Linked DNA regions of Homo sapiens: region 2 is linked to region 1. Evidence: fine-mapped expression QTL. A gene starts in region 1. The other region holds a variant in brackets. All regions are shown on one strand. Distances are from middle to middle.

Region 1 (4,398 bases):
TAGGAAGAAAATATTTAAACGTTTCTACTTTAGATACAGTCTGGCTTCCAATTCCAGTTCTATCATTTTCTAGCAACATAAATTTGGGCAAGTTGCTCAGCCCCTCTGAGCTTTAATCTCCTCCTTAGCAAAATGGCTCTGGTGACACACCCTTCCTTGCGTTGTGAGTGTGTAAGGCAGGTATGGTACCAGGCGCCGAGATAAACATTCATCTAACAGTCCCTTCCTCTTTTACCTTTTGTTTGTTTGTTTTTACTTTGGCACCATTTATGAAGGTCCAAAATAAATCCCTTTTTTATTTGTTTGGTTGTTTGTTTGTTTTGCCTTCTAAATCCTGAGTCTCATCTACAAAGTGGAAAAAAAAAAAAGGCTGTGAATTTCCATAATGTAAGTTTCGTTTTCTATGACTCGATTATGGCAAGTGATGTATAAAGGCTGAGTGGAGTGACAAGGAGGGGCACAGAGAAGAGGGAGGACAAACTTTACACCAGCAAATCCAACAATCGGCCCCTTTTGAAAAATCATTAGCAGCCTGCTGGAAGCTCCAAGTCTCCCAGATTTGGGATATGAGAGAGTAACAACATGAATCTAGAAAATGTGGTGCCTTTCGTGCATAGATTTGAATTAGAGAATTCTTGGTCAGTTTTGCATATGAAGTTGGGGAGAAGGCGTGGGCGGCGCAAAGAAAAACAGAGAAACACCTCCCCCTGCTGCCTGGATGGCGAATAGCAGCAAAGATGCAAAAAAAAAAAAAAAAATTCCATGGTCATATAAAAACCCTCAGCCTATTCCGAGGGTTTGCAAAGGATTCACTATGTGCAGGCAGCTGAATTTTATGGAATGCATTTTCCTATCCTAAGTTACCTTCAAAGGTCATAAAAAATGATCTTAGGACATTATTACAATGATGATGCTTTCCACTGGGCATGTTGTTATTTGTTTCTTGAACAGGAAATATATTAGCGTAACTTTTAAATTAAAATGATATAAAAGTTATAATTGAAAAGTCTTGTTTCTGACTGCCTTACGTATACCTAGCTACTTTTATTAGCTTTTCATATAAATATAAGTAAATGTGACTAATGTAGTCTTCTTTTTTTCCTTCTTACACAATAATTAGCTGTTTGACACTCTTCCGGATATTGTTTTTGTCACTTAACAACATAACTTGGTGATCCTCCCAGAGCCGAAAAGCTCTCCCAGATATGTTTCAGGGCAGCGTAACCTTCCTTGTTCTTCCTTCACTGAGCATGTTATATGTGGAAAGAACACATCCCCACTTGGGGAAACCAGATAAATTGTTTAAATTATTGCAAATGTGAATGATTTTAATGTAGAAATAACCTTTTTCATTCCACATTAATCACAAATACTGTTCACAACCCTTCGTAATAAACTTGTCTCCTGCTTATTTTTTTTTTTCTGGTATTCCTTGTGATTAGAATCTCTCGCCTTGGTATCCGCTGTGTTCAAGAGCAGAACAGAGCTTTGAACTTTACAGGCTAGTGCTCAGAATTAAAAGTGCTTAATGCCACCAAGATTTCTATTAAAAAACCCAGGGTAAAGGAAAAAGCCTTTTGCTTCAGCTGAAATGTTCTTGTAAAGGGCAAAATGGAAAATACAAACACCACTGCCGTTTGCTGGTTGGATACCACAGCCATCGGCACCTCCTGGAAATGGCAAGCCCATGAGTTCCTGATGGAAGCCAAGGTTAGTCTTATTGCATTTGAGAGAGTTAGAAAAGTGTCTTTCAGTGTGGACAGAGAGCCAGCAAGATTGTGAAGGTCAAAGAAAAATCCAATTATCCATAGCAAACACTGACCATACAATTAAATTACACCAGTCAGGAAAGCATCTGATCTTCTGCAACGGACTTCTTCCAGCAAATTTACCCTTGAATCAGTCTGGGCCATTCATTGGCAGCCAGCTGATCAGTTTCCTTCTGCTGCCCTGCATCCTGCAACATGTCTGTAGCAGATGTATCACTGCCCACCTACATCCCCTTGGCCCACCCCAGAGGTCACCTGCAGCTGCAGTGGTCAACTCCCAAGCACGCAGACATCTCAGCATCAAGAACCTGCTTCTCTCTGCCCAAGGGCTTTTTCTGGCCATAGAAGTATCCCCTGCACAGTCCAGATATGCAGGCTGGACAGAAGTTCCAGGGAGCTACCATTCCCAAGAGCAAGCCTCAAGCAATGCCTGGGAGATAAACACCCAGCTCCCTTGCTTGCCCCTTGCCTTGCTGGGGCAATGCCAAAGTGTGTGGTGCCCATACTCTCAGAGGGACACCAGTGCGACTGAGCCCCAGGTGGGACCTACTCATTAACATGCTGTTTATTGGCTTTTCTCTCTTCCCTACTGTCTCATCATTTTTCTGGGATTGACTCCTGTGAGAGCCTTGATCCAGTCAAGAGACAGAAACTACACAGTAAGTTCAACAGGACAAGTGTAACACAGAGTCATTAACTACAATGAAGAGTATAGATATAAGGAAACTCTACAAAGCAACCTAGAGCTACGAGGGAGAACTTAGGAAAAGACGAACTTGAGAAGGATTCAGACCTCTTGGGAAACGGTGAGGTTCAGCCCACGAGACAGCAGAGAAGTTAGCTGCTTTGGCTAGGCTGGAGCCGGCCTGGAATTGCTGGGAACCTCCAGGTGCAGCCAGCCTCCGTTGTGCACGCAGGGGGCGCCAATCAGCAACTGATGGTGAGGGATGGAGCCCGGGAGCTGGCGGGGGCTGCAGGAGGCTGCAGAAGGAGCGGAGCGGCTACTCAACGCCTGACCCTGCCAGCTAAGTGCAGCTGCACACAGGCCGAGCAGAAGCTTGCAAAGGGAGGCTGAGTCCCGGACCCAAGTGTAGCAAGCAGGGAAAGGGAGGGTAGGGCACCGGTAAGGGCAGGAGCCCTTCGGAGGCTCACTCTGTGCTGGGGAGCTCTGCTTTCCATGTCAAGAAGCCTGCACAAAAATTATCACCAAGCCGGGGCTGCAAAGTCACAGAAGGACCAGTTCCACCCGCTGTCCTCGTCCACCCACACTACTGAGCCGCGGTCCCCGCACAACCGGCGGAAACCCTCCTCCAGCTGCGGTGTCCTCCGGCGCCCTCTACTGAGGAAGCCTAGCATCGCGCGCACTTAAAGGAGACGGGCTCAAAGGCACGCCTTCGTTAGTCCCAGAGCATAAATTAATAAAGGGTCCATTCAGAGCTGAGAGGCACAAAAAAAAATTTTTTAAAAAGATAAATACACCTCCAAAGTCCCACTTGCACTCAAACCCTTGTCTCAGGATCTGCTTTTGAAAGAACCCAAATCACGACAATGTCAGACAGAGATGTGATTTTTGTTGACAAAAAGAGTCAGACTCTAAAATATTTAAAGAGATTTATTCTGAGCCAAATATGAGTCACTAATGGCCCATGACATAACCTTCAGGAGATCCTGAGAACATGACCCCAAGGTGATTGGGGCGTCACCTAGATGTATACATTTTAGGGAGACGTGAGACTTCAATTAAATACATTTAAGACATACATTGTTTCAGTCCAGAAAAGGGAAAGTGGGGAGGTCTGCTTCCAGTTGTAGGTAGATTTAAAATTTGTCTGATTTGTCAATTGGTTGAAAGAGTTACTATCTCTAGAAAGAAATGTCTCGGTTACAATAAGAAGTTGTGGAAACCAAGGTTTTATCACGCAGATGAAGCCTCCAGGTAGCAGGCTTCAGAGAGAATAGAATGTAAATGTTTCTTATCAGACTTAAGGTCTGTGTTGATGTTAAATGCTGGCCACGTTTCCTGAATTCCTAAAGAGAGTAGGGTATAACGAGACATGTCTGACACCCCTTCCCGTCATGGCCTGAACCAGTTTTTCAGGTTAACTTTGGAGTGCCCTGGCCAAGAAGGGGTCCATTCAGATGCTTGGAGGGGCTCTAGAATTTTATTTTTTGTTAATATTTTAATCTTGGCTCTGTATGACCTCAAGAAAGGGTTTTATCAGCTTAGAGTCTCCACTTTCTCATCTGCAAGATGGAGGTGATAATAAACAGTCCACCTCACAGGGACTATTCTTGAGAGAATGAAACAAAATAGACCACCTGCTATGCACTTGGTACAAAATAAGTGCTCAAAATAAGTGCTCAATATCACCTCCCTTCCTCCTTTTCAAACCAAATCAAAGCCCCAAAGTTTCTTCTTCCTTTCTTTAAGTAAGAGTCAAGGTATGAGAATGCTCCAAGCTACTCTGCTCAAGACATTTTTCCCTTAAATTTGGCCCAGGCCATCTTGGAGGAAAATGGAGAGATTAGAAGGAGGCCTTGACCTGAAAAGGAATGATTTGAAGTATTGGAAACAAATGATAAACAAGTATTTCTCTACAGAGGAAAAAGTTCCAGTATAGAAGTTCTC
Region 2 (4,398 bases), 58 kb before region 1:
GGGCAAGAAAAATAAGATAAGCAGGAGAATTTCCCACAGGTGGTTACTTTGTGAGAGAAAAAAAGGGAAAATCCAAGACTTCGCCCTTGGGAATGAGCGTTTGGCAGCCTCCTGGGACTGGAGAAGACCAGGTCTCCCTTTCTCAACAATCCCATCCACTTTCTTTCCCAGAAGACCCACATTCTGCTTTGTTGTGTTTCTAACCAGCTGAGTCTAACATTGGCTTTCTTTTACATTACTGCCCCAGACAACACTTTGTGGCAGAAATGAAGCTGCAGCAAGAATAAATCCTGTTTGGTTAATAGGATTTATTAACTGGGTTAGCAAGGTCTGCCTGAAACAGCTGATGACTGTCCAGCCAAATGCAACCCAGTGCCATAACATCCATTCATTTATAATTGTTTAACTAAAATAAAATGAAATAAACAGAGAAATTTCCTCATTTACCTTATCATCCATCCCCCTGTCCAAAACAGCCTTTAGTCCTATTAGATAAAGGATGGCCTCAGCTGGAAAAGCAAGAGAAATAACAGTTTATGTGGCAGCTTTTATTTATAGAGGGCCCAGGTAATCTAAGTATAATTTAAGGAATGGTTTCCCCATGTTTTTCTCCCAAGGGTAATTTTAACTATAAATGATTTTCACTTTATAAGCAAATTCTAGAATCTTTAACTCTTTTCTACCCCTACGTTCATTCCTGTGTAGGATTAGACTCTACTCTTACCTAGGCAAAAGGACAAAGAGAAGTTGGGTGGATTTGAGAGCTCTCCAGATGCAGATTTTAGGACTTGGTAATGGATGAGATGCCACAAGGAAGAGGAAAAAATTCCAGGATGACTCCCAGGTTCCACTTTTGGCAACTGGGCATGTCCATGAACTTCCTCATCTTCCCAATGCTTAGCACGTCAGGAACAAGCAATCGCTCTAAATCTGCAGAGGAAACCAGCCTCAAAAAGGTTCCATTTGTCCTTGATGATCCAGAGGATAAAATAGTACACACCTACATATAATTAACTAAAAGAAGAGTAATATAAATATGAACATAGGTTTGTAGCAGAAAAGTTACAGACACCTAACTTGAACCAGATGAATCTACACAAGAAAACCCACTGTAATTTCAGGCTATTTAAATACCATGCATTTCTTAGTTAGAAAGCCTTGTCTAGATAAAGGTAAAGTTTTCATATTTGCACTGGGTTTAAGTTCTTCTTGCCTTGATATGCCCGAAGTGTCTGCAAGTTTGAGAATCATCAAGCACTTCTTACTATGCACAGCCCCCTAGCACTCCTGAAAACACCCTCCCTATATGAGTTTTCTTTGTTTATAAACACACGGGCCAAGGTGCAGACCCAAAGAAATGCATCACTTTTTTTGGACTTTCACTCTCACAAAAGAACTACCAAATGTCTAATGAGTGCCTAAATATGCAGGCTTAGGGCAAGGGACATATCTTAGAAATGATGGGAATATTGTCCAGTTCTTTACAAGCCTTTTCCTTCAGTGATTCTCCAACTTTCCAGCAGTGGAGATGGCCATGAGAGCACATGAAAGTGGCTGTGTACTGCTGGGAAATGCTAAAAGCCTGAAGTGAATGCCACAAAAGAAAAACTTTCATAATCTCATGTTTTAGATTAGCATTCAGGAAAGTTGTATATTATACTTCTAAACATGTGTTTGTTTTTGTATTATGATGATAGAAGAAGATGCACCACCCTTGTGCTATAGGTTTATATAACTCCTGTCAATCACCATGTGTCCAGATGTAGCCATATCTTAGTGTAAGGAACAATAACTTCAAGTTTATGTAAAGATGTCACTCTGCCACACAGCTGGCACAACACAGACATGGGGCTTCACCCATCCCATACTGATATCAGCCATATTCCCAG[T/A]CTCTTCATCCGGACCCATCTTACTCTCTGCTTGCCAGTCTATCCACAATTTAATCCATTTCTAATCCACCATTTCTCTTCCTTTCATGACTTCACTTTAAACCAGTTCTGGGCACTGTTTTCTAACTTTGACCTTTAGCTTGCCCCTTCATCCTCATTTTGGAGACTCCATCTGGCTATATTGTTTTGATATGCCTTGGTTTCTCTTAGACTCTGTTTCTGCCTTTGCCAAGACCTTCATGTCTCCCTGGATCCACATTCTCCCTAGAACCACAAGTGAATCCCAGAAAACCAAAGAAGTTAATATTTGTCTCCTAAAGAATTAAGAAAGCAAAACCTGGCTTAAGTAAATATTCAATATATCCATACCCTTGGGCTGTCATAACAAATTTCCACAAACTGGGTGGCTTGAAATAATACAAATTTATTCTCTCACAGTTCTGAAGGCTAGAAGTCCAAATTCAAGATGTCAGCAGGTCCAAGCTCCCTCCAAAAGCTCTAGAGAAGAATCCTTCCTTGCCTCTTCCAGCTTCTGGTGGTTGCCAATAATCTGCTTATAGCTGCATGACTCCAATCCCTGCCTGCATCTTCACATGTGTTCTCTTGTATGTCTGTCTCTGTTTTCTCTTCTTAAAAGGACACCATCATAGGATTAGAGCCCATCCTAACCAAATATGACTTTCTATTAAATTATTACATCTCCAAGGACCTTATTTCCAAGTAAGGTCATTTTTGAGGTTCCAGGTAGACATGAATTTTAGGGGGAAATATTTGACCCAATATTCCAAGAAGTGTTGATTCCTTTCTTTATAATGGCAGGAAAGGGAGAGATGATGGGCTACATGATATGTATTAGAATCTAATTTGTCAAATACTGTTTTATAGGTCTGATGAAGTTCTTCAGCTCCAGCGTCCTCTCTGAGACACCTTCTTGTCACCAGACACCGCATATGCTTTAAGGTACCTGAGTTAATCACCCCAATTTGTAATGTCTCATTAATAATTCTGGTAGCATTTCATCTTGCATTTGTTGTGGAAATGTGGACTATGCCAGGCACACACCACAGTTCTAAGATGAATCAAATCCCAAATATTCTTGGTTACTTCTTTTGCCTTAACAAGACTTTAACTACCTCAATGGAAGATACACTAGCTAATCAATGACTGATGTTTATATCCTTCATAGCAAGTGTTCACTAAGTGCTTTTGAATTAAATAATACCAATAACAACATGCTAACAGTCACTGAGAGTTTGCTATGTTCTAGGTCAACACTGCCCAGTAGAAATAAAATACGAGCCACATCTGTTATTTTCAAATATTCTGGTAGCCTCATTTGTAAAACAGTAAAAAGAAACCAATAAAGCTAATGTTAACAATATATTTTATTTAACCTAATATTCCTAAAATATTATTTCAATACAATATAGTCAAATTATAATTTTAATATTTTAAAATTATTAATAAGACATTTTGCATTTTTATCCTAAGATTTAAAAATTCAGTGTGGATTTTATATTTATAGCACATCCCAATTCAAACTAGCCACATTTTCAGTGCCCAGCAGCCACACACAACTAGTGACTACTGTATTAGACAGTGCAGTTCTAGATGCTATGTTAAATACTTTACAAGCATAATTTATTTAAACATCATAATAACCTGCAAGGGGATATTATGTGTGTTCCCAATTTTCAGATGATGAAACTGAGGTTGAAAGAGGTTACATAATTTGCCCAACATGACAGAACCATTCTATGCTTTTAACGGCTGTGGCTGTGCCACATTGCCACCAACCTGGATAGATGGATGAGTGGATGAATATAAAGTTCTTTTTTAGGTTATTCCTTGGATTCTGAGGTTTTTTATTCCCTTTCTCCATGATTCTTTCTCTCCATCGAGAGAGTACACACACACACACACACACACACACTCATACACTGGACCAATATTTTTCCATCTTCCTCAAATTAATCACCACCTGTGTCAAAATCGCCTGAATTCCCCGGTTTCCCAGGCCCTACTCCTAGATTATTCTCATCCAACAGATCAAAGAGAGCTTAGAAATCTGTGCTACTAATTTCCAGGATTAGGATTCTGATGCCTGTTAATGCAATGTTCACAATTTTGGCTCATCTTAGGTCACCTGGAGCTCATGCCTGAGCTCCGTCCACAAAAATTTTCCTATAAATAGTCTGGGATGAGACGTGAGCATCAGTTTCTTTTAAACGGACAGCTGGCGTTGAAAATCCTACACTGACATTTGAGTTCCACTCTCAGCCATGCTTCTCTGCTCCTTGCCAGTCTGGATAATTATGCATGATAATGTTTAGAAGAACCCAGAGGGATGAATTTAAAATTGTCTAGTTGCCAGGTGTCCAGGTGGTCAATTAGGACAATGAGCCAAACTGAAAGTAACAACTAAGCATTTATTCACTTACTACAACAATGCAAGCAAGATGCAAAAAGAGGTGCTGGCTCCCCTGTGGTCCGTTTTTCCCTACAGAAT

The links. PIP is the estimated chance that this variant, and not a neighbour inherited with it, causes the effect. A credible set is the group of variants that fine-mapping cannot tell apart.
Region 2: its variant is the best candidate, but not a certain one, in a credible set for the expression of LINC01182 in atrial appendage (GTEx, PIP 0.82).

What each region holds. Positions count from the first base shown.
Region 1 is chr4:13,652,978-13,657,375 of GRCh38, reverse strand. LINC01182 (long intergenic non-protein coding RNA 1182) reads right to left here and starts at 2,197. Exons shown (of 4, transcript NR_121681.1): 1 at 2,025-2,197. RefSeq lists an enhancer at 2,623-2,672.
Region 2 is chr4:13,711,454-13,715,851 of GRCh38, reverse strand. All of the region lies in intron 2 of LINC01182 (long intergenic non-protein coding RNA 1182), which reads right to left. Among named protein-coding and RNA genes, the nearest start is that of LINC01182, 58 kb to the right of the region's middle. The variant T/A (reference allele first, on the strand shown) is at 1,890.